Homo sapiens: one gene and its partners. The protein of the gene in region 7 purifies or fractionates together with the protein of the main gene of each other region. This does not show direct contact. Each region holds a gene or a part of one and is shown on either strand. Other genes may lie near its edges.

The links.
Region 1: the proteins of SLC7A5 (region 7) and PODXL2 purify together in Homo sapiens (affinity purification with mass spectrometry; one large-scale study listed by BioGRID and IntAct). This does not show direct contact.
Region 2: the proteins of SLC7A5 (region 7) and CHST11 purify together in Homo sapiens (affinity purification with mass spectrometry; one large-scale study listed by BioGRID and IntAct). This does not show direct contact.
Region 3: the proteins of SLC7A5 (region 7) and LRIG1 purify together in Homo sapiens (affinity purification with mass spectrometry; one large-scale study listed by BioGRID and IntAct). This does not show direct contact.
Region 4: the proteins of SLC7A5 (region 7) and HERC3 purify together in Homo sapiens (affinity purification with mass spectrometry; one large-scale study listed by BioGRID and IntAct). This does not show direct contact.
Region 5: the proteins of SLC7A5 (region 7) and FAM234A purify together in Homo sapiens (affinity purification with mass spectrometry; one large-scale study listed by BioGRID and IntAct). This does not show direct contact.
Region 6: the proteins of SLC7A5 (region 7) and KDSR purify together in Homo sapiens (affinity purification with mass spectrometry; one large-scale study listed by BioGRID and IntAct). This does not show direct contact.

What each region holds. Positions count from the first base shown.
Region 1 is NC_000003.12:127,631,636-127,635,997, reverse strand, and holds part of PODXL2 (podocalyxin-like protein 2 precursor), read right to left. Parts: intron 1-4,362. UniProt on the Homo sapiens protein: Acts as a ligand for vascular selectins. Mediates rapid rolling of leukocytes over vascular surfaces through high affinity divalent cation-dependent interactions with E-, P- and L-selectins.
Region 2 is NC_000012.12:104,463,191-104,467,552, reverse strand, and holds part of CHST11 (carbohydrate sulfotransferase 11), read right to left. Parts: intron 1-4,362.
Region 3 is NC_000003.12:66,410,517-66,414,878, forward strand, and holds part of LRIG1 (leucine-rich repeats and immunoglobulin-like domains protein 1 isoform 1 precursor), read right to left. Parts: intron 2,499-4,362; coding exon 2,355-2,498; intron 1-2,354. UniProt on the Homo sapiens protein: Acts as a feedback negative regulator of signaling by receptor tyrosine kinases, through a mechanism that involves enhancement of receptor ubiquitination and accelerated intracellular degradation.
Region 4 is NC_000004.12:88,668,784-88,673,145, reverse strand, and holds part of HERC3 (probable E3 ubiquitin-protein ligase HERC3), read right to left. Parts: intron 3,287-4,362; coding exon 3,123-3,286; intron 3,008-3,122; coding exon 2,894-3,007; intron 1-2,893. UniProt on the Homo sapiens protein: E3 ubiquitin-protein ligase which accepts ubiquitin from an E2 ubiquitin-conjugating enzyme in the form of a thioester and then directly transfers the ubiquitin to targeted substrates.
Region 5 is NC_000016.10:258,209-262,570, reverse strand, and holds part of FAM234A (protein FAM234A), read right to left. Parts: intron 3,089-4,362; coding exon 2,972-3,088; intron 2,603-2,971; coding exon 2,411-2,602; intron 1,188-2,410; coding exon 1,057-1,187; intron 479-1,056; coding exon 346-478; intron 148-345; coding exon 18-147; intron 1-17.
Region 6 is NC_000018.10:63,329,207-63,333,568, forward strand, and holds part of KDSR (3-ketodihydrosphingosine reductase), read right to left. Parts: intron 2,696-4,362; coding exon 2,576-2,695; 3' UTR 1-2,575.
Region 7 is NC_000016.10:87,841,428-87,845,789, forward strand, and holds part of SLC7A5 (large neutral amino acids transporter small subunit 1), read right to left. Parts: intron 1-4,362. UniProt on the Homo sapiens protein: The heterodimer with SLC3A2 functions as a sodium-independent, high-affinity transporter that mediates uptake of large neutral amino acids such as phenylalanine, tyrosine, leucine, histidine, methionine, tryptophan, valine, isoleucine and alanine.

The DNA of each region.
Region 1 (4,362 bases), on a different chromosome or scaffold from region 7:
GGCTAGCCTGCAGGAAAACAGGAGCCCATGCAGAAGAGAGCCAGATCAGCTCAGTGTCCTAGCTGAAGTCCCAAAGTGAGAGAGCCAGACAAGACCAGCAAAGGTGATAAACAGCTGATGACAAACTTGAAGGAGTTCAGCTGAGACCAGAACCACCCAGCTGACTGCAGCCTAAATTGCCAAACTACAGAATCATGAGCTAAATAAATGGCTACCGTTTTAATCCAGTGCTTTCAAACTTGAACCAGCATGGAATCACCATGAGGGCTTGTTAAAACAGAGACTGTTAAGCCCACCCTAGAGTTCTGAATCCAGCTGGTCTGTGACGGGGCCCAACAATTTGCATTTCTAGCAAGTTCCCAGGTGATGCTTCTGTCCAGGGATCAGATCTTAAGAACTGAGAATCTGAAACCACTAAATTTTGGGGTGATTTATTACACAGAAATAGCCAAATGATACATTAAGACAAATTATAAATCAAGTTCTCCTTTTGGATCAGAGTAGTGTTTGAATGGTTAAATTCCATTCATTCATCCATCCATTCATTCATTCTTCAACCAAAAAGCCTTTATTAAATGCTTATTTGGACTAGGCATGATCCAAGGCTATGTTGGTACAGAAATAAGAAAGATAGGGTCCCTGCCCCAAAAGGGTCAGTTTCTACTACAGAGACCAGCAAGAAAACAAATCATTATGGAATAGTGTAACAGTGACCATATAACTCTGTTTGAGCCACAGGGTTAGTAGGGCAGGGAGAGAGATCTCAAAGGTAGCTACTAACAGAACTGCTCATGGCACTGTACTAACTGTGCTCAGTACACTGTGAAGGAGAAAGGAGGCTGGAGGAAATAACAACACCGGGATCTCAGGAACATGTGTTCAGTTTCCCTTTCTCTAGGGTAGACAACCATGCCACTCAGGGGGGCACATGGCCGAAATGCCCCACACTTCACGATAAAGCAAAACAGCAGAGACGATACAGAAACATAGATGTGTAGACATGAGAGACGCCTCCATTAGAATTACAGTCCTCATAGTGCTTCACCGCTGGAAGAAAAAGAGAGCTCTTTTACGAACCCCTAGCAATTCCCCCTGCACTCATCTGTCCCGAACACTGCCCTCTAATCAGCGCTTCTCAGACTGAAATGTGTGTGAGTCACCCGAGTCTTCTGACACAGTAGGTGTGACTGATGCTGCTGGTCTGTGGACCACACTTTGAGTGACAAAGCTCAGAGAGGTCTTTTTATTTATTTTTTATTTTTATTTATTTTTTCAGACAGTTTCACTCTTGTCGCCCAGGCTGGAGTGCAATGGCGCGTTCTTGGCTCACTGCAACCTCCGCCTCTCAGGTTCAAGCGATTCTCCTGCCTCAGCCTCCCGAGTAGCTGGGATTACAGGCACCTGCCACCACGCCCAGCTAATTTTTTTTTTATTTTTAGTAGAGATAGAGTTTAACCATGTTGGCCAGGCTAGTCTCCAATTCCTGACCTCAGGTGATCTGCCTGCCTCAACCTCCCAAAGTGCCGGGATTACAGGTGTGAGTCACTGTGCCCAGTCAACTTTTTTTTTTTTGAGATGGAGTTTCTCTCTTGTTGCCCAGGCTGGAGTGCAATGGCGTGATCTCAGCTCACTGCAACCTTCGCCTCCCGAGTTCAAGCGATTCTCCTGCCTCAGCCTCCCGAGTAGCAGGGATTACAGGCATGTGCCACCATGACCGGCTAATTTTGTATTTTTAGTAGAGACGGGGTGTCGCCATGTTGGCCAGGCTGGTCTCAAACTCCTGACGTCAGGTGATCTGCCCACCTTGGCCTCCGAGAGTGCTGGGATTACAGGCGTGAGCCACTGCACAGGCCGAGAGGTCTTTTTAAAATGCAAATCTGGTTCTATCATTCTATCATACAGGTCAGATCCTTTGAAAAGGCGAGAAGGCTCTCATAAACTGACCATTACCTCCCCTCCCCTCTCTGCACCCACCTTCCCCAATCATACTCTACGCTTCAGACAAACTGACTACCTGCAATTTCCAGAACACAGCCGCCTCTTTTGCCTTCTGGGTCTTTGCATATGCTCTTCTGCTTGAACATCCGTATCTCCCCATCTCTGTCCTGTCCCACCACCCACCTGCTAATTCTCACTCCTGCCTGCAGTCTCAGCTTCCGAGAAGCTTTCTGTGGCCACTCCAAGTCTGGATGAGACACCACTCCTCTCTATCACAGCCTTCTCAACAAACTACTGTCACGCCACTTTTCTCACCAAATTGTAAGAGACCTTCATACAGCCTCCATTGTAAATGAGGAGTCCCTTGTTTCAATTCCACCCTGTAATTCCAGTGCCTAGCACAACCTTTTACACATGATGGGGACACAATAAAGGTTTGAATAAATAATTAGTAGTCTAATCCAACCCTCTTGTTTTACAAATGAAATAACTGAGGCCTGGTGGGATTAAGGTCAAACAGCTAGTTAATAGAGGAGCTGAAATTAGCTGGTTTCTCCCACACACACACACACACACACACACACACAAAATTTGTAATCCAACCCTCTTGTTTTACAAATGAAATAACTGAGGCCTAGTGGGATTAAGGTCAAACAGCTAGTTAATAGAGGAGCTGAAATTAGCTGGTTTCTCCCCCACAAAAACATCTTGTGGATGCTCCAGGAAGAAGAATGGAAAGCTATTACTTGTGGGGCTGGGTACCTTCCTTCCTCCAAAGGATACGTGAAGGAAGAGAATATGTAAAACAGCTTAAATATTTCATGTGCTTTAAGGGCCAGGGAAAGAAGCCAGAGCTAAAAACTAGAAGATACCCCTTTCCAAACACTCTGCCCAGGGTCCCCACAACCAATCCAATCAATTGAAGGAATCTCTTCTCTTGAAAAAGACCAAATTAGTAAAGTGATTCCCAATGTTTCACAAGCAAGAATCCCTTTATTTACATTTGCATGTGGCCCCTGTGTTTGGAAATGTTTCATCTATAAACTGTACTTATTTAATAGTTATTTTCTAATTTTTGAAAAGTGAATCAGAATCATGTAGTACTGCCAATCAGATGTGATCCAATTATAATTGAACTTTGGTTTCAGGTGGGCTGTGCTCTTATTAGAGGTAAAATTTCTATTAGACTCTCGATTACAAAGAAAAATACAGTCACTCCTGAGCTCCTATTCTGTGCCAAACAGTGTGTTAGGCCCTTCCTGGAGGTGCAACAAGAGACAGATGAACAAGAGACAGGCTTTGCCCTCAGGAAAATTACAAACTCTTGGGAAGTGGAACCCTAAGTTCTTTAGGGGATATGAGCCGATGTAGCAGACTGCTTTGCAAAAGCAGTATCCCCAGGGCTGGCAGGGAGCCAAAATACAAGAAACAAATCTGGAAAAACTCATTCATGCATTCCAGGAAGAAAAAAGTCAACTGATGGAAAATGTTTATAATAATTAAATAATACACATTGTATAGGTTCCCGGGGCACCCGGGCAGCCTGCCTTTGAGAGGGCCATGAACTGGAGATCTGTATCTGCATGCTCCAACCTCCAGCAGGTATGCTGGGAAAGATATTACTTCAGCCTTGTTAGAAAAGTGTAAACTGATTCTCCCTAAGAATTTTGAAATTCACTCTCTACAAAACCACTGAAGGATTAAACACGGGTTGTCTCTCAAACCTTGGCACTCTCTCTCGGAGCTGAACTGTGGCATGGCAGGGAGAGGCTGTGGCATGGCAGGCGGGGAGGCTGCTGCCGTCTACACCCTACTCTGGCTCCTCGGAATGGCTTGGAACTCAAGAAGACTGCTCTGCCCTCTCCAGGTCATTGTGCCCAGAGGAGCCTGTTTCCTTCCCCACTCTGGGGGATAAAACACTTTCTAGTCAGTCCAGCTGTCTGTGCACAGTACTGTGGTCTGGTGTGTTTGCTAGGCCCCTTCCCTGTCATTTCCATGGCTCCAGTGAGCCCCCACCTCTCTGAGCTCTCCCACCTGTCAAGCCAGGAACCCATAACCTTCCTCTAACATCTCTCCCTTTCCTTCTTTGTCTTCCCTTCCCAATGGTCTAATAGGAATTGGCAAAGATTTTGAAAACCCTACTGAAGAAAAAGGAATCTGGTATTTTCCCGGTTTTTCATTCCTTTTCCAGTAAACAGTTTCATTTTCTTAAAGTTATTTTTCCCTCTAATGACTGTTTTGTCTTTACATAGAACTTGATATTTTCAAAGGCCTTGGCAATGGGTATTTATTTAAGTAATTACAAGAGGTTACTTATTTTCAAACTTGCCCACCATAAGATGACACCAAAATAGTAGCTGAGACATAGCCATTCTGTGTATAATTAGTTTTGCACTTAATAATTAATCTGCCTTAATTGAGACC
Region 2 (4,362 bases), on a different chromosome or scaffold from region 7:
AGCCCTCCCCATACAGCTTATCTAAAGCCAAACTAAGCCTCCACCACCGCTAGAACTGGCACCAGGTTAACACTGTACTTTTACCCAGAGTTGACAATGGCAGGTTTGACAATAACCAATGACATTCAAGGCAGGTCTAGTCCTGGAGTTCCAAAATCCTAGTGGACACTGTGCCACAAAAGGGGTCCGGGAAGGAAACATCAGACTTCCCATTTTTTGTTCATCTAGACACCAGACCTTCCATTTTCAGTTAACCTAAAAAAATTTTAACTATATCAAGAATACAAATGGCCACAAACAACTCCATCTAACCTGTCATATCAAATTACATGTCAGTTATGAAACTCAGGCAGGTATCCTCAACCACAAAATGAACTGGAGTGACCACCTCAATAATTCCACCATTCTCAGCATATTTCAATGAATAACCATTTACAACTGAATCATAAGTAAATTTACAGATTATATTATCTACTTTTAACTATCCTATTCCTCACAAAATAGAACTGAGGCCTAAAGAGATCCCAGCCAAGAAACCACAACTTGAAGATAATTGTCACAATCCAGGCACACAAGAAAATGGCATTCCTCCCTCTTGAGTACTAGCTCTCCATTGTATCTTTGTGGACAACATTACAAGGTCAAAAGGATGAAAGAATCAGAATTGATAAAGAGTCAGCCAACGGAATTATCCAACAGATAACGACATAGGGGTTTGCAGTCACTAGTCAGAAAGGATCCTATCCTAGATATGTAGATAATGGTAGTAATATGCAGAAATTATTTATAAACAAAATATATTGAGGGATGGCTGCTCAAATATGTTTTACCAATAGGGTGTGGTGAGTATTGTGATTATTTGCTCATCGTTCATTCTACCCTCCTTCTAGAAAGCTTTCTAGCCTGCAGAGGCTGGTAATTGAAAAGCTGTATTTCCCAGGCTTCTTTGAAGCTAAGGTTCTAGATGTGAATTTGGCTCTCCCAAATAGAAGCACTCACTTGAGATTTAGAAAGCAGATGTGGGGCAGAGAGGCCATCTTCTTGCCTTTGGGGCTGTTTGGCCGCTGGCAAGCATGGAGATGGGGTCACGAGGGTTTTTTGCAACAGCATTATAGGGTCCACTCTCCGGCTTTGCCATCAATTTGTTCTTGAACTCAATAGTTCCAGACACAGTATCAGAGGGTGTAGCACCCCTAGTGAGTCAGTTTTGTTTTTTGTTTTTTGTTTTTTTTGAACAGCCATGCCAACATACGTTTGTTTATTAATTATTATATAAACTACTACCATTAGCTGGGAGACATTCCTGGAGCCCCATTCCTCCAGCCCCCTTATGCCTCTATAAGCACAAAATTCCCTCTAGTAAATATCTTTCTGCTTAAAATACCTAGACTGGTGCTGGACACGGTGGCTTATGCCTGTAATCCTAGCATTTTGGGAGGCCGTGGCGGGCAGATCACCTGAGGTCAGGAGTTCGAGACCAGCCTGGCCAACATGGTGAAACCCTGTCTCTACTAAAAATACAAAAATTGGCTGGGCGTGATGGCGGGCACCTGTAATCCCAGCTACTTAGAAGGCTGAGGCAGGAGAATCGCTTGAACCCAGGAGGCAGAGGAGCCAGACGGTGCCACTACATTCCAGCCTGGGCGACAGAGTGAGACTCTGTCTCAAAAAAAAAAATTAAATTAAATTAAAAAATAAAATATCTAGACTGATTTCTATTTCCTGCCCTGAAACACAGCAGAACAGAAGCAAAGAGATTTGGGAGACAAAGGGACTAGACCACAGCAGATGCTGTTTGTACATGACAATCCAACCTGGCTCCTCCTTCTGAGTTCTGCGCACATGGATTGGGTGGTGACCGAGGTGGAAAGGCTTATCTTTGAGAATCAATTATTTACTCTTTAAATGTTTCCTAGGCACCTCTGGGCCAGGGTCAGAGGCTATAAAGATGAACCTGACAGAATCCATGCCTTGCTATGTCAAAAGAGGAAGATGTACAAAAAAACAAACAACCACAGTACATTTCTAAAAGGGCCAGAAAAGAGAAATGACAAAGTCATGACAGCTCAGTAGCCTTGAAAGAAACAAAAATCCACATTGGTGATACTTTCCCTGGGCAATGTTTATGTCTATTTCTAGATGAACTTCCAGGTTCAAGCCTCAAGTTAAATCACTTACTTCCCACCCTCCCCATTCTAACTCTTAACCAACCTCATCGTTAATCAGACAAATACTAACTACAAGCCCTGGGCTCTGAAAATAAGTGCCAGGCAAAGTTAAAAAGACTTGGACAGACTGCATGCCAGTCTGGCCATTGAGAAGCAAGTACTCAAGACTAACCAGGTACTTTTGAGCCCTCAGACTCTGCATCTTGGAGGAATGCCATTTTTCATCACTTACTGAGGTTATGAAGTGTGCCACAGTTTACATAAAGTACTTTCACAATTTACAGAGGTGGCCTCAGAAGGCATCCATGGTGAAGGCACACTGCTATTTGATGGAACACTAAGAAACGAAACAGTTGCTCGTTAAAGGGCAGCACGGTGCTGAGATGCCATCAATCACAACACAAATTGCATAATCACTAAAATGTGAAAAAAATATGTTCTGGAATCAATAATACACAATAATTTATGGGGATAGGACATGGGAGACCCCAGACTAGGACTCGGGTCTTCCACTCCCAGAGCGCTGATCCATTTCATCGTTTTATTTTTATTGAGTGCTGATTTAAGTCTGGCACTTTTTCTGGATATTTTTATTAACAAATGCCACCGATTGCACCCTGAAGATATTACGAATTTCCCACTACAAGCTCAGTCAAAATTTTTCTCAAATCTCTTTTTCAGATCTCTTCATTACTGCTTTAAAAATTGGAAATGGGACTGGGTGTGTGGCACACCTGTAAGTCCCAGCTGCTTGGGAGGCTGATGATGTAGGAGGATCCCTTGAGCCCAGGAGTTCGAGGATGCAGTGAGCCGTGATCTCACCACTACACTCCAACCTGGGCAATAGAGCAAGGCCCTGTTTTTAAAAATAAAGATAAATTTTAAAAAATTGAAAAAGGAGATGGTCTAGTTGGGGGTCAAGGGGGAGCAGGTGGTAGAGGGGAGATGGGACTTATATGGTGACCACTTAACCAAAGTACACTACCGGCTGCCCAAAGATGAGCACAAATGTGCAAGTAGAGCTGGGCACAGTGACTCACACCTCTACCAGCACTTTGGGAGGCCGAGGAGGGTGGATCACTTAAGGTCAGGAGTTCAAGACCAGCTTGGCCAACATGGCAAAACCCAGTATCTATTAAAAATGCAAAAATTAGCCAGGTGTGGTGGTGCATGCCTGTAATCCCAGCTACTCAGGAGGCTGAGGCAGGAGAATTGCTTGGGCCCAGGAGGCAGAGGTTGCAGTGAGCCCAGATTGCACCACTGCACTCCAGCCTAGGTGACAGAGCAAGACTCCACCTCAAAAAAAAAAAAAAAAAAGTGCAAGTAGGAGACTTCATTTTCAATCTTGCTACATTGCTTCCACCCTTATTCCTTGCCTCCCTGCCCCAAGAGACCTCTGCTCAAGCTTCTGCAGCGCTTCCCTCCCATCTACAGTTAAACCCAAGGCTCAAAACAATTGTCTCTCTCCGACTTGTCTCTCCCCACTGTGGTTGTTGGCTGCCTCCGTCCCTCTGCTCTGGGCACTCTGACCACCTTGCCATGCGTGTTCTTGCCTCAGGGACCAGATTTGACTTGTGTTGCTCTCTGCCTGGAACATGGCCGGCTCCTTCATTTCCTGCAGGTGTCTGCTCTCAGTGTCATCTTATCAATGACATTCCCTAATTACCTCTATATTATATTGCAACCCCTGCCTCTCACACCCCTCAACCATCTTCTCTGTTTTGTTTTTCTCTTAACACCATCTGATATACCATATATGTCACTTCTGCATTTGCTTAAAGTCTGTCCGCCCCACTAGAATCTAAGTTCCATGAAGGCAGAGATGTATGTATGTGTTACATCTCCAGTGCCAAGAACAGTATCTGGCACAGAGTAGAAGAAAGGAAAAGAGAGAGAGACAGACAGACAGGGGGCTGGGGAGGAGGAGAACAAGTCTGCTTGTAAGTTTCAATCACTCACATTGGATCTAAGATGCATCAAATTACAAGTTCTAGGAAATTTTAACTGACAGATCAGATTGTTCATAGGAAGAACTGCCTCCCCTTTTATTTGTTATAAAGGTGGTGTCCCAAAAATTCAAAAGAAAAACTAAAAAGAAAAAAAAATGAATCAGCAGAATGACTTCTGGTTTTCCTCAGAGTCTGAACTTAGAAGAGGCCTGCTGGCAATGACTTTCATGAGAGCCTTTTTCACT
Region 3 (4,362 bases), on a different chromosome or scaffold from region 7:
GCTTCCTAGAAGTGACTTTTTTGGCTGAGTAAAAGTGAACCAGGGCTGGGTGTGGCGGCTTATGCCCATCCAGTACTTGGGGAGGCCGAAGAAGGAGGATCGCTTGAGCTCGGGAGTTCGAGACCAGCAAGGGCAATATAGCGAAACCCCATCTCTACCAAAAACAAAACAAAAAGTGACCCAGGCCAACAAACGGGCACAGGAGTTCCAGGCAAGGGCAAAGCCCATTAAAGGAATAGAAAGGAGAGCGAATAGGAGGCGGCTCTTATTATCACCCGCATCTCACACATGAGGAATGTGCTGCTGAGAGAAGCCAGGTAACCTGTCTAAGACTTTACACAGCTTAGCCAGTAGGGAAGGGGCTAGAATTAATTCAACCCTGGGTCTGCCTACCAAAGGCTGGACTCTGTGCCACTGTGCTAGGAGACCCGCTTTAGCTCTGGCGTCAGACTACCTGGATTTAAATCCTAATTTTGCAGCTTGCTGGCTGAATAAACCTGCACATCTACTAACATGGAGATATCCAAGAGCACTGACTCCATGGGGTCACTATAAGAAGGAAACAAGGGTACATCAGGATTCAGTGCAGCTCTAGGCCTGAGCTCTCAGGCCCACCGTGTAAGTGTGCTAGCACCCCGCTTCCCAACACAGCATGTGCCAGGAAGGACAGCGCCAGCCCAGGCAACCGCCTCTTCAACAAAAGTCCGTAACCCGAATTTTGCTCCGTGTTCAGTATTACAAGGGCTTTGGGTAACTGAGTTTTGCTTTTTTCCATCTTTCTTTCTGCTACTGCTCAAAAGGTAAGCACTTAATGTATAAATAACCTCTAAGGCAGCTCATCAGTCTCAATTTATACAAATCTGTTCAACATAAAAACCAAATGGTAGGTGCTAACTCCATTTTCCTCTGAGAATTCTCTTTTAACTTCAGTCCACCCAGCACATGACCACCTTGGACTTCCAAGTCCAAAATGACATGCCTAAGGAGGTCAAGTGAAACGTTTTTGAATATGTAAAACAAAGGGTGGAGAATGGGTAGAGCAAGAAGCCCAGCGGCAGGAAACATCCTCACTGTTCACAGAGTAGGGAGGGCTGGTCATGCAGAGACGGTTATCAGAGTGACACAGCACAACATGTGGATGGACCTGGGCCTAGCTCGTTTCCACTGCCAAGAAAACCAGTAAAGGACATTCGAGTCATGATATAATTTGCCCAGACTGGAAGAAGAAGGGGCGGACATGAGCAAGTTAAATCATTGACTCTCAAGGAGGAAATCGCAAGTGGATAAGTAAAGACAGTGGTGTCAGTCTATCAACTTGGAAGGAACAACCAGCAAAGCTAAAAACAGAAAAACGAAAAAGAGAAAGGCTTAGAAGTGCTTGCCTCTTGGGAGAAGAACTGGGGTGAAGAGAGAATGAGGGGGTGGTGGCGGGGGAGGCTGGGGTGGGCAGTGATGGCTTTTCTTTACTATCTGATTTTATTTAACTATACAGTCAAATTACTTTTGATTAAAAATAAATATTAACGTTTAAAAAGGCTTTCAACGTTTAAAAAGCCTTTTCTGTATGCTGCCCTGCTGTTTCACGTTACCGTGCAGGCAAGCCCCTTCTGCTGCTGTACACATCTGGCTGAAGAGACTGCTCCCTTGATAAAACTTAAACATCTGCACCCAGTGTCTTGATTAGCTCACAAGACAGAAATAAACCTCCTAAGATGAGCTCTACATTTTTGGCCCACCTGCACCTCAGGAAAGACTGTCAAACCCAGAAGGGGAGAGAAGGAACTTCCTGTGGTCAGGAGTGGAGAGGATGTGAGGAGGGGTCTGTTCCGCAGCCCCACGTTCACCGAAGAAGCAGGGGCGGGGGCAGTGGATGCAAGCTGTGGAAAGCAGTCCTGGCAGAATGGCCCCCAAACTCCATCTCCATCAACCAACTTATCTGACTCAATCCGCTGAAACTTCCCCCAAGTGGATTTCAGTGGATGTCCCAATCTGCTAGGAAAATACCCTCAGGTTTGGCCCGGTCCCCAAGACAATGAGTTGGGCCCAGGTGAAGCTGCAAAGGGAAGGGGGCTGGGTCCGGCTGAAGTCTTGAAGAATCCTTCAGGAGAGAGGGGCTGGGCACTGGTGCCCCACTCCATGCCCAGTGCACAGCTGAATGCTGGTGTGGGCGCGCACGTGCACACGCGCACGCACACACACCCCACACCACACAGCAATGCTGGTGTGGGCGCACACACCCAACACACAGCAACGTTGGTGTTGGTGCGCACATGCATGCGCACACACACACACGCCACATCACACCACACCGCACAGCAATCCTTAGCAATGCCAGTAACCTGGTCCGCACTTACAGCACATGCATCTTGGACAGTCCCCAGAAGGCCCCATCTGTCAGTTTGCTGATGTTGTTTCGCTGAAGCTTCAGCACCTCCAAGCTGTTGAGCCCCTGGAAGGTGAGGCCCTCTATCAGCCGAATCCTGTTCCGATTGAGGTCCCTAAAGAGATGAAGCCAGCAGGGTCAGAGTGTCTTATGTGCATATCCCACCCACAACCATTCTGAAGCAGTCCTGGCTAAGTTTCCAAGCCAGAGGAGAAATCCCAGTGCAGGGATCCCTGGGAAGCCAGGATGTGTAGGGGAGCCCACCATGTGTCTCGGCTGCCATGCAGGCACTGATGCTGCCACCTGACCACACCTAGTGCAGGCAAGAGGGGTGAGTGAGGCCAGCTCTCCACAGCCAGCTCCGAGGCTGGCCCACAGCTGCACAGAAGAGAACGCGTGTGTGCTCACGTCTCCTCCCCCAGTAGCACCAGTGCCATTTGTGACTCTGCAGTGAGGACGTGGGTATGACTCAAGGGGTGAATGTCTTATGTGAGGTATCTCTGAGCTCAGCAACAGAAATCCACACCACATGCCTCAACCCAGGAAAAACCAAACCACTATGTATCAAATGGCAATAACACTTTCCACTGGGGGCATTTCACAGCATCTCCACTATGGAGAGAAGTTACTGCACATGGGGGCAGGGGGAGATGGGGTAGAGACACCCCACAAGTCATATACACTTGGCTTCTAGCCCCAGTATGACAAAGCCTCAGTTCACCAAAAGATGTCAGGAATCTGGGTGGGCCAGATCCATTAGCACCCCTGCGGGAAGGGGAGGCAGAGCAGCCAGAAAGCCCTTGGTTTTCCCCAAATATTTCTGCAGTGTCTCATGATGCTGCCCCACACAAACCTTCTCAGGAATCACTGAGACCTTCTCCACAGACTGAAAATGGCAAAGTCTAGGACTCCCCACCCAGGGGAGGTGAAACCCAGGTAGGATGAGAGCCAGGCACACCCCGTCGTGCCGCCAACCTGGCCCTCGACAATTATTTTGTTTTGTTGAAACAAAATTTCCAATACTGTCTTATTTTCCTGAAATACATTCTTCTGCTAAAAAGAGGGCACAGGAAAAAAAAAAATCAGGGAAAAAAAGTCCTTCGTCAGGCTCTGGTTAACAGAGCTTTACTTGAATCTAAAACTCTGCCTTCTAGAAGGGTACTCAGCCTTCCATCAGTAAACTAAACAATTAAATTGTTTACAAAAATAATAAATCGGCCGGGTGCGGTGGCTCATGCCTGTAATCCCAGCACTTTGGGAGGCCAAGGCAGGCGGATCACGAGGTCAGGAGATCGAGACCATCCTGGGTAACAAGGTGAAACCCCATCTCTACTAAAAATACAAAAAATTAGCCAGGCATGGTGGTGGGTGCCTGTAGTCCCAGCTGCTCTGGAGGCTGAGGCAGGAGAATGGTGTGAACCCCGGGGGCGGAGCTTGCAGTGAGCTGAGATCACACCACTGCACCCCACCTGGGGGACAGAGCGAGACTGTCGCAAAAAAAAATAATAATAAATAAATAAATAATAATAATAATAAATCAACTACCTTGTAAGATTAAAGATATGAAGACAAAGGCTTGTCTTTTGCTTACTAACTCCAGCTACACTAACTTCCTCTCAAACTGTTCAAGAAGTGTCGGACACCACCATGTCCAAGGTACAGATTTTACGGGTATCTTAAAAAAATACAGAAAAACATCTAAGATAAATAAGAACCCAAACCCATGCAGCCTCAGCATTAGCCAGCATCAGCTAAGCAGCAGGACTCCTGATTCCATTTTGGAAAACATCAGGGAAGAAAAGCGACCTCAGTGGATGTCTTTCTCAGCAACCTGAAGCAGCCACAGCACCAGACCCAGCTCCGAATTTGCTTTTATGAGGTGCTGCCATTAATGGTAATTTATGGAGAGCTTTACCAAATGGAGCAAGGAAAGGGTGGCGTTTGGTACGAGGTCCTTGGGGAAATCTGGCCTCCATAAA
Region 4 (4,362 bases), on a different chromosome or scaffold from region 7:
GACTTTCCCCACTTGTGCTGCCCTCTAGAGGAGCCCACCACTCATTCACTCTGTGCTATTTGGTTTTTAAGTGCAGATAATGGCAAGTTACTGATTGAAGTAAAGGAACCACTACCACCTCTTCTTTAAAAGGAGTAAAAATCAGCCACTTTAGAATGTTCCTTCTGCACACATGTGTTAGATCCCTTTGCAATTTTTCACTGCTGCTTCTGGGCTAAACACTCTGCAAAGGTAGACACCATATCCATACATGTTTCCACTGTGACTAGCAGGCAGATGGCACACATTAGGTACTCAAGAACTGCTTCGTGAAAAATATTTATTGAGGGCTTATTATATGCTAAGTACTCTGCTAAGCAAGGTCTTTCCATGCTTTCTCCCATTTAATTTCCACAATCTGTTATAATTCTTACTCACAAAAGAGGATGCTGGGCCTATAGAAATTAGGTAACTTGTCTAAGGCCATGGCCATTAGACCAGAGTAAGGAACTGAACCCAGGTCTTTTTGACTGGAGCATGTGCTCAATAATATACTACACAGCCTCAGCTATTAACAAGCTAAAAATGCCAACACACATCAAAAAAATCCATCTATTATTTAAAAGTAGTTAAACAAAAATAACATATGAAATAGCTTTAGTATTTTAAATTAAACTTCAAAATATCAAGACATTTAAAATTCAATTTCTAATAGCATTGTACCTCATACAATAAAAAAAATTCCACAAAAATCACAAAAGGCCATATACTAATTTCATGTAATTTTCCATATTTCTTTAATAACTATTATAGTTATTGAAGAGATGAGCATCTGTTATTCAAGATCTGATAAGATATTTATCAAATGTTAAAAGAAAGGAAGTTTAAAATATTGTAAAAGTTACTTAAATATCTCTACTCAGAGACTACTGTCATAATAATCTAGATTTTAACATGAGCAACTTCTTTTTCAGAGTAAAAAAGAATTACAATTTGTTAGACTTATTTTATTCAGCATCAAGTCACAGAAAGGGTAGATTAGAAATCAGAAGAATTGACTTTTACTGCTACTAATGAAATTAGTGGAAAAATTGTTTAACTTCCATTTCCTCATCTAGAAACAAAGCAGTTGGACTAAATAATTCATCAGGCTTATTTTTCTGCTCATAATGTTATTATTCAGTGAATAATTATTCATAAATTGATAAAACAGAAGGGCTTATTTTTTAATAATTCCTAAATTTGAAAGTGAAAACAGAGTTCATTACTAGCCTCCATGTTAAATTTCCCAAGTCAGCCCATTTAGAACACTCTAACTCATTTATATTAAAAAGTATTTTCCTGGCCAGGCACAGTGGCTTACCCCTGTAATCCCAGCACTTTGGGAGGCCGAGGCTGGTGAATCACTTGAGCTCATGAGTTCAAGGCCAGCTTGGGAAACATCACAAAACCCCATCTCTACAAAAAATACAAAAATTAGCCAGGCATGATGGCACGCACCTGTAGTCCCAGCTACTCGGGAGGCTGAGGTGGGAGAATGGCTTGAGCCTGGGAAGCAGAGGTTGCAGTGAGCCAAGATGGTGCCACTGCACTCCAGCCTGGGTGATAGAGCCAGACCTTGTCTCAAAAAAAAAGTATTTTGTTTTCTCAGGGTAATCATAAAATCTTATTTAAAAATAAAACATTGTATGCATTTTTTAAGTCTCTAGAGAAAAAAATACAACATTGTGTCTAGCATTCATCATCTATTATTTGACAAAGAAAACAATCCTTCTTGTTCAGTTAGATCAGCCTATTTAAATGTCTTGCTTTTGGAGACAACTGCTGACTTCCAAAAACCCCACAGGAAAAATATTGCCCTAATACTGGTGATGAACCTGCTACACTGGCAAGGACTCACCTCAAATCTGCTGCACATGGCTTCACAAAATACAATAACCAAATTATCATTCTGTTTTCTGACCTAACTCAAATTTGCACATACTCCACAGATGGGAGATCCTAAAGAGCCTTGCATATATCCCAAGCTGGTGTGCTATCAAAAGGAGCAGTTCCTGCCACGCCAGAGGTGGTAGGCAGGAATCCACAGGCCCCTGAATGGCATATCTAAAATACGGTGAGACAGCACTTGGTCAGGGATGTGTGACACTTTCACACACATAATTCTCAATCAGAAGGGGCCTACGGGGTCCAGGTAGCTGACATATGATGACTGGAGTAGGCTGTCAGAAGATGATAATTAGCAAATGACCCTTCCTCAATGTCAGGGATAAATTACGCTGCAGTGGGAATTGTGGCATATACATAAGCCTCATCTAAAGAGTCACTCTTGAACTCCAGCCACTTGGTGTCATATGGGAAGACAGGTCGTGTTGCCAGATCTTCCAAGTTTTGAGGAAAGCTAAAAATTCATATTTGTATGTGTCTTGTTTTTTTAATTATGGTTTAAAAAAAAACCTAACATAACATGTACCATCTTAAGCATTTTTAAGTGTACACTTTCAGCAGTGTTAAGTATAGTCACACTGGTGTACAATTGGATCTCCAAACTTTCTTATCTTGCAAAACTGAAGCTATACTCATTAAATAGCAACTCTCCATTTTCCCCTGCCTCCAGCCCCTAGCAATCACCACTGTACTTTCTGTTTCTGTGGATTTGACTACTTTAGATACTCTGATTTTTTTAAAGGGGGCAACTGATAAAATGTGTAACATTCTGGGTGACTACTCATTTATGACTCCTTATAACATTGATGATTACTTAAAGCACTTCCAAGTTTCTAGAATGCAAAAGGCCAGCTGGATGAAGAATAGGTGACACACTGACATCAAAGTCAAAGACATATTATACAGCTCACATGTGCTTTTCTTATAAAAAGACTAAAGCTTTAAAATATGCTTTATGAATTCTTACCATCCCTGCTTGATGCAAGAACCACATGAGGTAGTCTTCCTGAATGTCCACGAGATTGGAAATCTCAGGAATGTAAAATGTATCATATTCCACATGCTTCACTTTAAGATTTACCTAATGAAGAACAAAATACAGACAACTGAAACATGGCTTCCCAGAGAACATCTCACTAGGACATTTTACCCTACCATCTAATCACCCCCTCCCCACTAGCACCTCCTATGCTCACCTTATATAACTTCTCCAAGAGTTTGAGAGCTGCTGTGATATAATTGTTAAACAGTACGGGAATTAAGAATGTCTTTCTTCCCCTCAGTAGATAAAGGACTGCACCTTTATAGAGGTTTACCAGCTTCATGAAATATTTCGGGCATACCTGAGACCACCAGTTATCTTTAGAAAGAAAGAAAAGACATATTTCAACATGTAATCTTGGGCAAGTATTTATGTCTTCTGCCTGCCAGTTAAAAATTGCTTTGTCTAGAAGATAAACATTAGTCTAAAATACATTTTCCCAAAACTGACTTTAAAAAGAATCCATTAAAACCTTTTTGGGGAGAACAACAGCTGTAAAAGAATCCCTGGAGCTTTTTTTGTAAAGCCTGGTCTGATTTTTTGCAAAGACTCAATCTGAAGGTTAACTTAAAAGTCCAATTCCAGACTACATGTGGACAAGATACACATATTTTGGGCAGGAGTGATGCCCAATGTATTAATCCAAAAAGCATTCTTATGTCCTAGCGCTTTCAGCCATCACTAAATCCTGAAGCAGAAATGCAAAGGATGACGCACCACATACCCTAGAAGCAGCACCAATATGGCAACCATTCCCTTCCCTTTAAGAGGTATCATTAGTTGAAAAACTACGATTTTTACTTCTCACCAAAAAATGCTTTCTCATAACCAGACAAGAAGATATACCACTGGCTTATACTTCGTTGGAAATAAACTCAGCCATACTGAAATACTTAAAGAATGAAATAGTATGTCTGAGATTTCCTTTAAAATACTCCAACAAAAAATAAAAAGGTGGTGAGGGCGAGGGACAGATGAAATAAAATGGGCAAAATACTGACAACTGCTGAATTTGTGTGGTGACTACCTGTAGCATACTCTCTACTTTGGGGTATTCTTTTAAATATCAATAATTAGAAGTTAAAAATAAAGTGTAAAATTGAACAATTATGTTCTCTTTGTATTTTCCAGCCTGGAAAAATAAAAATGAAAAAACTCTAAAACTTGAAAGTCAGGTAAGATTTCTTCTGATATTGCCACCTCTCTGTTTCACATCAACTAGAACACCTGAGAAAATGTGCCCCCAAAAGGCTTTTGATCTTAAAAAAAATTAAGTACTAACATTTACTAGTGCTTTCATTATTATTTCTGTTTTTATCTCTTCTACAAAGGTGGAGGCAATATAGAAAAGCCAGTATTCCACCTTCAGGAACACAATCTCTTTATTCACGGCG
Region 5 (4,362 bases), about 88 Mb from region 7:
CTGCGGCCCGGACCCACCTGTGGGAAAGCATCCTGCGGGTGGTGGCATTGAGCATGCTCTCCCAGTGCGGGTCACTCTTGAACGGGCCGCCGCTCCCGGTCACCTTCTCGTAGAGACCCTTCACAGAGCAGCCGCAGAGGGAGCTTGCTATTCAAAACACAGAAGGGCCCGAGGTCACCAGGGTCACGCTGTGAACCCGGACCAGGGGCACGCAGTGCCACATGGAGCCAGGCCCCTGGGCTTCCTGACTCCAGCACCTCGAGAGCAGAAGCAGGACCTGAGGAGCCGCAGGGCAGTCATGCTCCACGAGTGAGGCTGGCCAGGGATGTGGCAGAAACAACGTACCGCAGGGAAAGAGGATGTAGTGGGCACCTGTCCTGGTGACGTGAAGGAGGAAGCCACTTTCCCCGTCCACACCAAGGCTGCCTCTGAGGCCAATCTGGTGCCCGGTGCTGCCGGAGTAGAGGTGGCCACTAACCTGCAATGACACAGGATGACACAGGAAGAGAGGGACCTGAGCCTGGGGCTGCAAGGACACAAGGCCCAGGAAGAGAAGGACCTGAGCCTGGGGCTGCAATGACACAAGGCCCAGGAAGAGAGGGACGTGAGCCTGGGGGCGGGGCACTCTACAATGGGAGATGTGGAAGGGTAAGGGGCCCACAGGCTCTTGGTTTTGAGGAAAGACACGCTGACATCAGAGAGTCTGCCACGATGGTTGGTGCCTCCACACTGCACGGGGCACATGAGGCAGGCAGGGCAGCCCCAGTGCCTCACAGGTGCTCCCAGCCCTCAGAGCTTCACCCCCAACACTGCAACAGCACAAATGGGAAGTGTGTACTCCACCATTCTTGGGGAGGCCCCAAAGCTGCCTGGTAGAGATGGAGCCCCCTGAGTATGCTGGGTCTATGGGAGTTGGGAACGTGGGGCTCTGGGCGAGTCCCCGGCAAGTGGTCAGACCCGAATCCTGTCTGGGAAGTGGCAGCAGATGGGGAGGTAGAGCAGGGCCGTGTGGCAGGTGGCCTCGTGACTTGGGAGCAGAGCCAGGCTGGGATGTACCTCCTCCCGCTCCTGGGTGAGAACCAGCAGGTCTGGGGCCCCATCGCCGTCCACATCAGGCACCTGCAGCAGAGGGCTCAGGATGGACGCATTCCCGCTGAAGCTGCTGCTGTGGTTCCACAGGGTTTCCCCTAGAATCAAGCACACGGTCACGGAACGTGGCCCTGAGTCCCCTTCAACAGCAGCCCGGCAACTGCAAGGCCTGTGACAGGCAGGCTCCTGTTGAGGCATCACCCTCGTGAGCCCACGGCTCACTGCACACTCAGAGCAGATGCCAACAGGAGGGGAGGGCGGCACTCCTGTGCTCGTGAAGGAGCAGCACGCGGAGGTGGTGGACACACGTCCTGCCCGTGTATGGAGACTCGGTGGCAATATGCCAAACGCTGACAGCCTCATTCCTGGGAACCGCAGAGTTCCCCCTTCCTTTTCTCCTATCTGCGTGTCCTGGAACCTCTAGGGCCCATGCTGACCCTCCTGCCCGAGTGGATGAAGCCTGACCTCACCCACCTCTCGAAGCCCCTGCCTCCTGCTGGGGTTGCAGGCGTGCCCTTGGTGCCATGCAGGCCCCAGCTGAGTGGCCCCTTCATCTGCCCTCCACATAGAAGGCAAGAATGGAGGTGTGCGCCCGGAGGCAGATCTACTGACCACAGGTCCTCGTCCAACTCCTTACGCACATACAATCTCATCCAAACCTTTTTTTAAAGACAGATTCCTTGATTCTTAAAATATTTTCAGCCTGCTCTTTATTCTCCTCCATATCCTTAAAATGACAGCTTGTAAGGGAAATATGAACATTCACCAAATCTAGGCACAGAAATCTTCCAGACCGCGATGAGGTGCAAGGAGCCCACACACACACATGGCCCCGTGCACCACGCATTCTTTCCCTCGTCCTTCCACGAGGCCGGCTCCGCTGGGGCTCGGAGACCTGCACCTTCAGGCTTAGGGGCACTGACAGGCCCCGATCTCCCCTGACGGGCCGAGTGCTGGTTCATGTTCTGGGCTCGCCCTGGGCACTGCCACCACTGACACCCCAGGAGCAGCCGGGGGCCAAGCCGCTCCTCCTCTCTGCTACCCCATGGCAGGTGACATCGGACTGCCCCTGTGTGTTACAGCCCACCAGCAAGGTGTAACGGGAGGTAACAGACACAGTGCAGCTGAAGGCAGCCGAGGCGTGTGCCTTCCACACGCTTGCAGCCTCACTTGGAGGTTCTCCCCATAACCTTCCTTCCCATCCAGCCACCCTCAAGATCACAGGGCTGAGCCTCGTCGCGGCCTCCTGGCATTAGCCCTCAGGGTGAGGTGGCTCAGGTGAGAGGCCCTCAGTGAGAACCCCGCTGCCTGGCTGGCCTACCTGTGAACAAGTTGACTGCAATGAAAGAACTGGGTCTGCCCACCAGGATGCAGGCAGAAGGTGCCTCACTGCCTCTTGGCTGGGGCACAGCACACTCCACGAGGGCCACGTCTTGGGCCACAGGTCTCTCCCAGAGCGTGCTGCCGTTGGCCCCCGACACAGCAGCTGCAAAGGTGCAGGGAGAGGAAAAGCCTGTAGGGAGAGACACCGGCACCTCACTGTTGCACCATCTGGGCAGGCAGGCCGGCCAGCCCCAGCATGTGCTGTTCCAGGTCTGTTTTCCTCACACCTCTCCTAGGCCACAGCCCCTCCCGCCAGGTGGATCTCCTGTATCTTGCAGGCTCCCGGGGCTCTAATGCTGACCCCACGGGGCTCAGGGGCCAGGGCAGTGCTGGGACTGGGCTTCCAGGCCTCTTTCTGGTCTGCCAGGAAGGATGACGAGATGGGTTCCAGAAACACCACCATCTGCTTCCCCCAAACACTGAAAGCGAGAGGGTGACCCAAAATGACGATTCCTCTTTCTACAGGGAGCTCCGCCTTTTTCATATAAAATGAAATTACCTTCGTCCACACAGGATCGGCTGAAATTGTTGCTGCTGTTGGTGTTTTTATAAAGAAAAAGAACATCTTGGATCCTGTCCCCGTTTATATCATCCACAGCCAGAAAGTCATAGATAACTGAAAGAGAAAACCACAGACTATACTCCGCGGGCCATGCCTGGTTTCCAGGAACGATCAGGTCCAGCACGACCTACTTCTCTGCTACATGGAACCTGCCACTGTGAGGGCACCCAACGAGGACGGTGGCTTCTTCCTCACTAGGATGAGTAATTTCCTTCGTGAAAACCAGGGGGTGGGCAACAATGCCTAGTGTTAACCTTCAGAAAGGAACAAGCAGGACATCTGGGCATTAAGAATTGGATGTTCTGGCACCTTCTGTTCAGGGATAAATCCCTCCCTAGACCAGGGGGCATCTAGACAGTCCACACTCCATACTCGTCAGGGTTTACACTTCCTTTCATTCAAGGACTCAAGTGATAAACTTTATGCCCTAAAATCAAACACCAAAAGAGTGAAGTTGGCCGGGCAAGGTGCCTCACGCCTGTAATCCCAGCACTTTGGGAGGCCGAGGAGGGCAGATAACGAGGTCAAGAGATTGAGACCATCTTGGCCAACGTGTGAAACCCTGTCTCTACTAAAAATACAAAAAATTAGCTGGGTGTAGTAGCACGTGCCTGTAGTCCCAGCTACTCGGGAGGCTGAGGCACAAGAATCGTTTGAACCCAGGAGGCAGAGGTTGCAGTGAGCGAGATTGCACCACTGCACTCCAGCCTGGCCGACAGAGCTGGAGTCCATCTCAAAAAACAAAAACAAAAAAATAGGCCGGGCCCAGCTGCCCCCTCCGGGAGGTGAGGGGCGCCTCTGCCCGGCCACCCCTACTGGGAAGTGAGGAGCCCCTCTGCCCGGCTACCACCCCGTCTGGGAGGTGTACCCAACAGCTCATTGAGAACGGGCCATGATGACAATGGCGGTTTTGTGGAATAGAAAGGGGAGAAAGGTGGGGAAAAGATTGAGAAATCGGATGGTTGCTGTGTCTGTGTAGAAAGAAGTAGACATGGGAGACTTTTCATTTTGTTCTGTACTAAGAAAACTTCTTCTGCCTTGGGATCCTGTTGATCGGTGACCTTACCCCCAACCCTGTGCTCTCTGAAACATGTGCTGTGTCCACTCAGGGTTGAATGGATTAAGGGCGGTGCAAGATGTGCTTTGTTAAACAGATGCTTGAAGGCAGCATGCTCGTTAAGAGTCATCACCACTCCCTAATCTCAAGTACCCAGGGACGCAAACACTGCGGAAGGCCGCAGGGACCTCTGCCTAGGAAAACCAGAGACCTTTGTTCACTTGTTTATCTGCTGACCTTCCGTCCACTATTGTCGTATGACCCTGCCAAA
Region 6 (4,362 bases), on a different chromosome or scaffold from region 7:
TATCCAAAACCCGCTGGGCTGGATGTGTTTCAGAATTCATAATCTTTGGGGTTTTAAAAAGGCAATATGGGCATATTTTGAATATTACAAAACACCTCCACAGCATCTAAGGGAAAACCTATAATCAAATCCATGGATATTTCTTCAGGGAAAATTAAGTCACAATGAAGTAGCATAAATATAAAGTACAATACTCTCACATCAGTTCAAGTCAGATTTTGCTGCCAAATGAATTACGGTATCAAATTTAGAAAAACACAAACCAACTTAGATTTCGAAGTTTCTTTGCTAAGGGACTGTAGCCCTTTAACATCTCTGACAAGGAAATTTCTTCTCTGACATGATGGTCTCTGCAAATCTGCTCTCATATTTCAGTGGAAATTGGGATAGGGACAATTGTCTTCTACCGCAAAACAGGGGCTCTCAACAGGTGCTCTTAAATTTATTCGGGTAGTAGATTACCATCTCACTGGAGGCAACAGGTTCTATGAGGATAATTTGAAAAAATATATTGAAATAACTATTTAATGTTATTAAATCAGACACTTTCTTGGACTAGATTCTAATATAGATCAGCAGTAGAAGGTGCCAACATTCGAGGAACATTTATGAGAAAAGAATAAAACTGAGAAACATCCAGACATTAATGCAATTGTTTTCTGCAAATTATAAAAAGCTATGATTCCATTTTAGCAGCTGCACAACGCAACTCGATATAATCTGCAAACTTTGGCTCTGTAAGACTGAAAGATTTATGAAACCATTCTGGCATCAACCCATCCTTACAAGCTGCAATGAAATCATTCCAAGCAATTTATATATTAAATAATAATTTCTTCTGTATCTATCAGTGTTTAAAATATGCTATTCTCAGATCTTAATAAAAACATGGGTTAAAGCCATAAAACATCTTATTTTTTAAAAAGTTAAGTCATTTAAAGTCAAGAGCTTCAAAAACTCAAGAGCAAAAAAAAGGTATGCTATAATTTTTAGGTCTTCAATTTTTGTATAGAGTTTTTATGTTTTTTAAGTTTTATTTTACAATTTAAGAAAGTTTCCTCTTCAAAAACAGAGGTCTTTTCTCACCGAAGTGATCTGGAATGTGCTACCGTATATGCAAGGAAGACAGGTTACAAGATCAAGGTGAAGGCAGCTCTCCTCAAGTCAGAGGAGTGTGAACAATGAGCAGGATGCAACGGGGAATGTTGGCTAAAACTCATCAGAGGCACTTGCTGTCAAAATCCACTAATGAACACAGATCCTATAACCTGGAAACAACATTCAGGGGCCAAGAGGGTTTCCAGGGCTACAGAGTTAGATGAGTGGGCTTCCTTAGCATGTGGTATAAAAATAATGTCTGCAGGTTCAGTGGGAGAGTCACATAAAGAACAGGTGATCATTTTATTTCAAAAGCAACTCTCTTCAAAATCAGCCTTGTCTTTTTTTCTTAATGAGCAAACTTTATACCATCATCAGCCTTTCCTAAAAGCTACATATATGCTCCGAGAAAAAGTCACACTTTTTAATTTTTTCATTTGCTTTAATTAATTCATGAGTTAAGTTAAAAAGTCAAGTCGAAAATTTTAGCTGGTCTTTTTTTTCCTTTTTTTTTTTTTTTACAAAAATATTACAGCAGTATAAGCAAAATTGGAAAGGAAGAGATGGGAAAAACAAGTAGATGCTAAAATGGGATAGGTGAACTTCAGGTCATCATGGTTATTGAAGGAACTGTAAATTCTTAAGCTTCTAGATTTTACCGCTCTTCAGAAAACATTTAAGGAGGCTGCCTTTCCCCATGAATGAGAAATGAAACGTTCCCTAAGCATTTGAGTCTAAAGACAAGAAAGCATTGCTTTTCCTACTGGAAAATATCTCTTTACTTCCCATTGCACTGCCCTCTCCCGTCCCCCTCGTAGCTTTATGGGATCAAAGAGAGAGAGAAGCCATGAGTTTCCACCAGCAGCAGAGTGAGTCCTGAGCACAACACAGGGCTGTCAGTGACATTCAGACTCACTGGCAATGGGTCCAACTCATCTTGAATAAAATACACAAAGAAAGAAAGAGAGAGAGAGAGAGAGACAGAGAGACAGAGAGACAGAGAGACAGAGAGACAGAGAGACAGAGAGAGAGAGAGAGAGAACCCGAGAAACCGAAAATTGTTTTTTTATGGAAGGTTTAAACAAAGTCCTCAAGATTTCTTTATGTGCCAGAAAGTACATTTCTGGACTTAATCTCTAGGGGGGCAAAAAAGAATAAATAGAAACAAATTTAATGATCATTCTGGAATCCTGTTCTTTACTTTGTTCACACGCTATTAATTCTCATACCTTCACCTCTCTACCACAAAGCCTAGAAAATCAAATGGTCTCCTATTCCATATTTGCATAGTATTAATAATACTGTCAGGAGGTGAACTTCTAGCCCCTTGCTTGCAGCCACATTCCTGAAGAGCACTGGTCCAATCTGACGTATTCGAAAACAATACATAAGTGTCTATAGGCCAAAAATTGGGTCCCATTTAGCAGCAAGCTGTTCAAATTATTTGGAAACAGTCTTCTTCCAAGGGGTAAGAAGATTAGGCAGTTTTGTCTGCATTTTCAGATTTTTCTCTCTGCATCATGCAGCGACGAACTATGCTGTCAAAACTTCCAAGGTAAAACAAAGCAATAGTGCGGAAAAGGCCCATGGTGACCACCTGCAAGATAAAGAGAGAGCTTTTAGTGCATCCAACGGTACAAGACTATTTCAAGGTACCTAGGTCTCTAACAAACAGTTTCTAAGACAAATCTTCTAGTCTGCTCTAAGGATGAATATAATGAAAACTCTGTAAATGTCAGTAAGCTGTGAGAACAGAATGTGTGTGCTCTGCACCGCTGGACAGCCCAGATACATAACAAAATATTTGTCCAATTAATAAATTCAAACCATAAGCAGAATAAAATATATATTGCTTGCAGTCTTAGGGTTATAATAGCTTTAAAAAGACCCACTGCAGCATCTCAAATAGCCAAACTACAATCAAGGCTTTTTTGGTTTGCAATTTATGTTCTGAGCATGAAAGCGAGACCCTATACTAGGTGCTGTGAACACTGTGGTGAGAGACACAGTCCCTGCCCTCAATGAGCTTATTCTCAGGCTGGAAAGACAAGTAAAATTGAAACTACTGCCTCAGGGTTGAGACCCGTGATTACTGATATCCTGTTGCTCAGGATGGAGTGCAGTGGCATGAACGCGGCTCACTATAGCTTTGACCTCCCAAACTCAAAGGATTCTCCTGCCTCATCCTCCCAAGCAGCTGGGACCATAGGCATGAGTCCCCGTGCATAAGAGAATGGAAAAATCAGGCCGGGCGCGGTGGCTCACGCCTGTAATCCCAGCACTTTGGGAGGCCGAGGCGGGTGGATCACGAGGTCAGGAGATTGAGACCATCCTGGCTAACACGGTGAAACCCCATCTCTACTAAAAATACAAAAAAATTATCCGCGTGTGGCGGTGTGCGCCTGTAGTCCAAGCTGCTGGGGAGGCTGAGGCAGGAGAATGGTGTGAACCCAGGAGGCAGAGCGTGCAGTGAGCTGAGATCGTGCCACTGCACTTCAGCCTGGGTGACAGAGCAAGACTCCGTCTCAAAAAAAAAAAAAAAAAAAAAAGAGAATAGAAAAATCCCTTTGTTTTTTTCCCTACACCCTCAGAGCACTGAAGCCAGTCCTTGGATCTTCCGGAAAAAACAATATTTAAGGTGAGACCTGAAGGATTAGAAGTTGGCAGGACACAGAGAAGATTCCAAAAAGAAGAAGATGGGTAAAGAAAGAAAGAAAAAAAAGAGCCTGGAAAGGTACGTGGGGTAGGAGATCAGGTGGTTTATGGCATGCGATGGAAATTTTTTTAATTTTTAAATCCTTTTTAGAGACAGGGTCTTGCTCTGTCACCCAGGCTGGAGTGCAGGAGTATGATCACAGCTCACTGTAGCTTCAGACTTCTGGACTCAAGCAGAAGTCTCCCAGTTGCTAGGAATACAGGTACACACCACCACGCCTGGCTTTCTTTTCTTTTACATTTTTTTGTAGAGACAGGGTCTCACTATGTTGCCCAGGCTGATCTCAAACTCCTGAGCTCAAGCGATCCTCCTGACTTGGCCTCCCAAAGTGCTGAGATTATAGGCATGAGCCACCATACTCAGGTGCAATGGAATTTTTAAAGCTTTATCCTGATGGTATCAAGGAGTCATTGAATGTTTTCATGCAATGTATAGTTGCAGTTTAGAAACAACTGGTGTGGAAAATGTGAGGGTACACTCAAACGCATCCAGGGGGCCTGAGCAGGGGGTTGCAGACCATAGTGGTTGCAGGGACTGTGCTCCTCCCT
Region 7 (4,362 bases):
CTTGTCTACAGGAGGTCAGGATGGAGGGGTCAACCAGCCCCAGTTGCCTTCAAGAAGGTTCCCTGAGACCTCACGACATGAGTGTCAAGGCAGTATAAAGCCAGGAGACCTCGGTTTGCATCCTGGCTACGGCAACAAGGAAGGCCCAGAGCCACTAGGGCCCTGCTTCTTGGGGTGCGAGGAGCTCGGAACAGACTGCCCTCCCTCCAGGGCTGGCAGGACAGGCCTGGGCAAGAACATAGGTTTGTCCTGGACCGTGCTGAGTGTGTGGCCAGCTGCAGCCGGGGCAGGGGCAGGAGCAGGGCTGCCAGGGCCGAGAACGATCCCCGTGCTGTGTGCAGAGCTCTCTCCTTTGCCCTCTGAGGACACGCGTCACTGGACTTCGTGACTGCTCCACCCTATTCCAGAAGGACCTCATTTCAAAACTTGAACTTCAGTCACATCTGCGAAGACCCTTTTTCCAAATAAGGCCACCAGCATTCACAGGTTCCCCAGGAGGACATGTCTTTTGGGGGAAGGGGTGTCTCCGGAAGGTCACGTGGCTGCTGGGACAGCACTGGCCCTTTCTGTGGCTGTTGCCTCCTCTGTGAAATGGGCCTGGTGTGTTCGAGCCCGGAATATATTGCCCAGACATCAGTCTCACAGACCACTGCGCTTCAGGAAGGAGAACTTGGAAAGAAGACCAAAGACACCACCGGAACAAAGGAGCCGGGTCCCCTCCTGCCTACCTGCCAGGTGCATATACAGCTGGAGGCACAAGTGGAAATCTTGGTCAGGCTGTGGACTGTTAGTTCATTAGAGAACCGTGTGTGACAGTATCCTTCCTGCTGGAAAGTCACCAGCCCGTCTCACAGGGCCAGGCAGGGACGGGCCCTGGGGCTGCTGTGTCCCAACATGTGGCCTTGGACCACAGGTCACCATGGGGGCCCAAGAAGGGGAACCACCTTGGTGGTCCAGGGAACACCGCAGAGTGACGAGGTGAGCAAATTTCAAAGGGGACCCGTGAAGGGAGGTTCCCATAAGACCTTGGCAATTACCCCAAACAAAGTGCGCACTTCAAAGGTGGCACCAGATTTCCTACGGCAGAGCCCACGGTGGGGTCCCTTCCTGATGGGTGGACCCAGTTCCTGTTTTGCACCTGCTTCCCCGTGGCGTGCTGGATGCCTGCGGCTCTGCCTCCAGCTCTGTCTGTCCCAGATGCCAGGTGTGCTGGGGCCTTTGATCTTCAGCCTACACTGGGGGTGCTGGTGGGTTCCCTGAGGGCTGCCCGCCACCCTGCCCTGCTGAGGCCTTGATCTCCTGAGAAGGAGCTCCAGGGCCCACTGCCTGCGTGTGATGTATTCTGGTCACCAGGTGGTCAGCAGGCGGAGCTTGACTCTGCAGGCCTGGAGCGGGGGCAGCTCAGAGCAGCTCAGGACAGGGCACTTTGCACAGCACCTCGGCACAGCCCCTCTGGCCTCTCTCCCATCTGCTCTCTGATGGAATGTTCTGGAATGTGCAGACCCTTCACATCTGCATAGCCCTACTGTGTCTCGCCCACTTACTTCTGCTGGGGGGAGCATCTGTCCTACAAGTGGGGGAATGCAGACCTGCCAGGCTGCTTGAGAATCAAGGTCCTGCCTCCCCCATCTGGCACTCATGGTGGGAGGGGGTGAAGGTGAGCCCTGGAGGCCAGAAACACGTGCCCCATTCACTGTGACCACCCCCGGACTCAGCCTGAGCTGATGGACAGGAGGCCTCAGTCCAAGGTCCCCGCCAGACACATCAATCCTCATAGCTGACCTCCAGCCTCATGACAGAAAGGCGGCTGATCCTACACAGAGGGTGGCTGCTTTTGCTAAGGACAATATACCGAGGCTTGACATGGTATGAGGTCTTCAGTCAGGAGCCAGATATTGGCAGCCCTAAGGCCTGAGTAACTTTTTTTTTTTTTTTTTTTTTTTTTTTTTTTTTTTTTTTGAGACAGAGTTCCACCACGCTTGGCTAATTTTTGTATTTTTAGTAGAGATGGGGTTTCACCATGTTGGCCAGGCTGGTCCAGCTCTGCTTAAGGGTGGCCTGGAGGGCTGCAGGAGGGACCTGCTTGCAGCCCAGGGCAGCTGGACACAGGGAGGTCACCACACTCATCCAGTGACTCCACGCTACACACAGGGGAGAGACACACCAGAGGTGGGAGTTAGACAGCGTTCAAACCCTGGGGGCAGCACCCCTGTACCTCTCAGCATGACCAGCGGGCATTCTGCACACCGGGAGACCTGGGCTGTCACGACGGCGGGGTGCGGCGCTACTGGCACGGAGCAGGAGGCCGGGGATGCTGCTGGATGTCCTGCAATGCACGGGACACCCCCACACAACAGAGAGCCCACGGTGGCAGAGGTGCCAGGCTGAGGCCCTGTGCAAGAAGACCATGACAAGGCATCAGCCACGAGCCTCTACCCCTGCCGGGAGGACAGGACCAGCTCCTCTCAGCTTTCTCTCCCATGGACCCTAGACTCGGGCGTGGTCCTGGCTTCGACATGAAGCCCCAGGCACTGGGCAGGACTGGAAGGAATGGCTGAGCGGCCCACTCATCCAGCAGCCACCCAGCCTCCACACCTGACAGTCTGCTATCCAGTCAGCCTCCACCCACAAGGAGGGGACAGCGTGACAGGGAAGTGAGGAAGAGAATCACCGTGGACAGACGGTGACATCTGCCAGAGCCCACAGAGACGCGAGAACAGACTCAGCGCAGAGCCTGAGTGGGGCCCTCCAGCCCCTTCCTTGTCCCTAAGAGGCATCTTCCTCAGGGGCTGGTGGAGCTGCCATGAAAGCAAACGCACAGCCAAACCCCGGGTGGGGGGAAGGCAAACTGCAAACGCCGCGGCGACCCCGGCACAGCAGCCCTGTCAGCAGGATTCCCCCGAGAGCGGGGTAATTGCGGTGGGAACGAGCGCTCCAAAGGCCCTGGGGAGATGATTTCAGGGAAAAGTGGCCTTGATCCCTGAGTCAGGCAGATGCGGCCATGGGAACCATCCACCCCGAGGCTGGAGGGGAGACTCCGCCGGTGGCTAAAGCCATCCTGCTGACGGGGCCCAGGGACGCCCCCAGTGGCCAAACGCACGTGGGAACGGGATCTTCCCCCTCCTCTGTGATGCGGCCAACCCTCCAAGCCTCTGGCTCCTGACTCAGAGGACGATGTCTCCCCATGAACGCAGTGTCCCTGGAGAGAAGAGCCTGCCCAGCGTGGGGAACATGGGAATGTGGAGATGGAGGGCATCCCGGAACCTCAGGGCTGACGGGCCCCTGCCCCAGCCCTGGAAACACCTCAGGGACAAGAGAGTCACTCCTCAAGCGCGGACTTTCCACTGTGCTGGGGCCTTCCGCCTTCCAACCACTCTGGCCCCTTGGGGCTCTAGGTGGAGTGTGCTGAACAGTGTCCCCAAAATTCACGTCCAGTGGAGCTGCGGGATGTGTCCTAGCTGCAAATGCGGTCTCCGCAGGTGCAATTAGCGAAGGACCTTGAGATGAGATCATCCCGGATTAGAGTAGGCACTAAGGCCGACGACAAGTGTCCTCAGCGACACAGAGACAGATCCAGGGGAGACAGAGCCAGAGCCAGCCCAGGATGCCTGGAGCCACGGGCAGCTGGAAGGGGAAGGTGGCACCTTGGGTCTGGACCTCTGGCTGCCAGGACCAGGACCGTCTGCATGTCTGTTGCTAAAGCCAGTCTGTAGGCATCTGTCACCACACATGAGGGGCCAACCGTGCCACCCAGGGGAGACCTCCCGGCTTCTCAGTGCATCAGGCATGGTCAGGGGCAGGACAGCTGCAGCTCACACCCCACTTCTCAGTCACCAGCCGAGTGCACAGCCAATGGCACCTCATCTAAGAGGGGGCTGTGAGTCCCATGTGGTCAGCACCCTGGAGCTAGCTGCCCTGTGGGCTCAGGGAAGTCGTGCAGTGACCGCCACATGGGTTCAGTCCAGAGCCCAGGCCAGAGTCCATGCCCACCCCACAGAGTCCACGCCCACCCCAGAGTCCATGCCCACTCCAGGCAGAGTCCACGCCCACCCCACAGAGTCCACGCCCACCCCAGAGTCCATGCCCACTCCAGGCAGAGTCCACGCCCACCCCACGGAGTCCACGCCCACCCTAGGCCACGGCGCCGCTTTTCAGATGCCTGTTTCGCTCTGGCCATCTAATGCCTGGGAACCGTGATGGGGCAGGAATTTGGGTTTGGGGGTTCTGGCGGCAACCAGATGGCACTTTTGGACCACCAGCAGTGTCTGTCGGTCTTGGAAACTCATGAAGGAGTGGGCCCTTTGCTTAGAGCTGCCAACCTCACACCAGAAGTAAAAGCTTTTTCCAACTCCACAGGCGGGG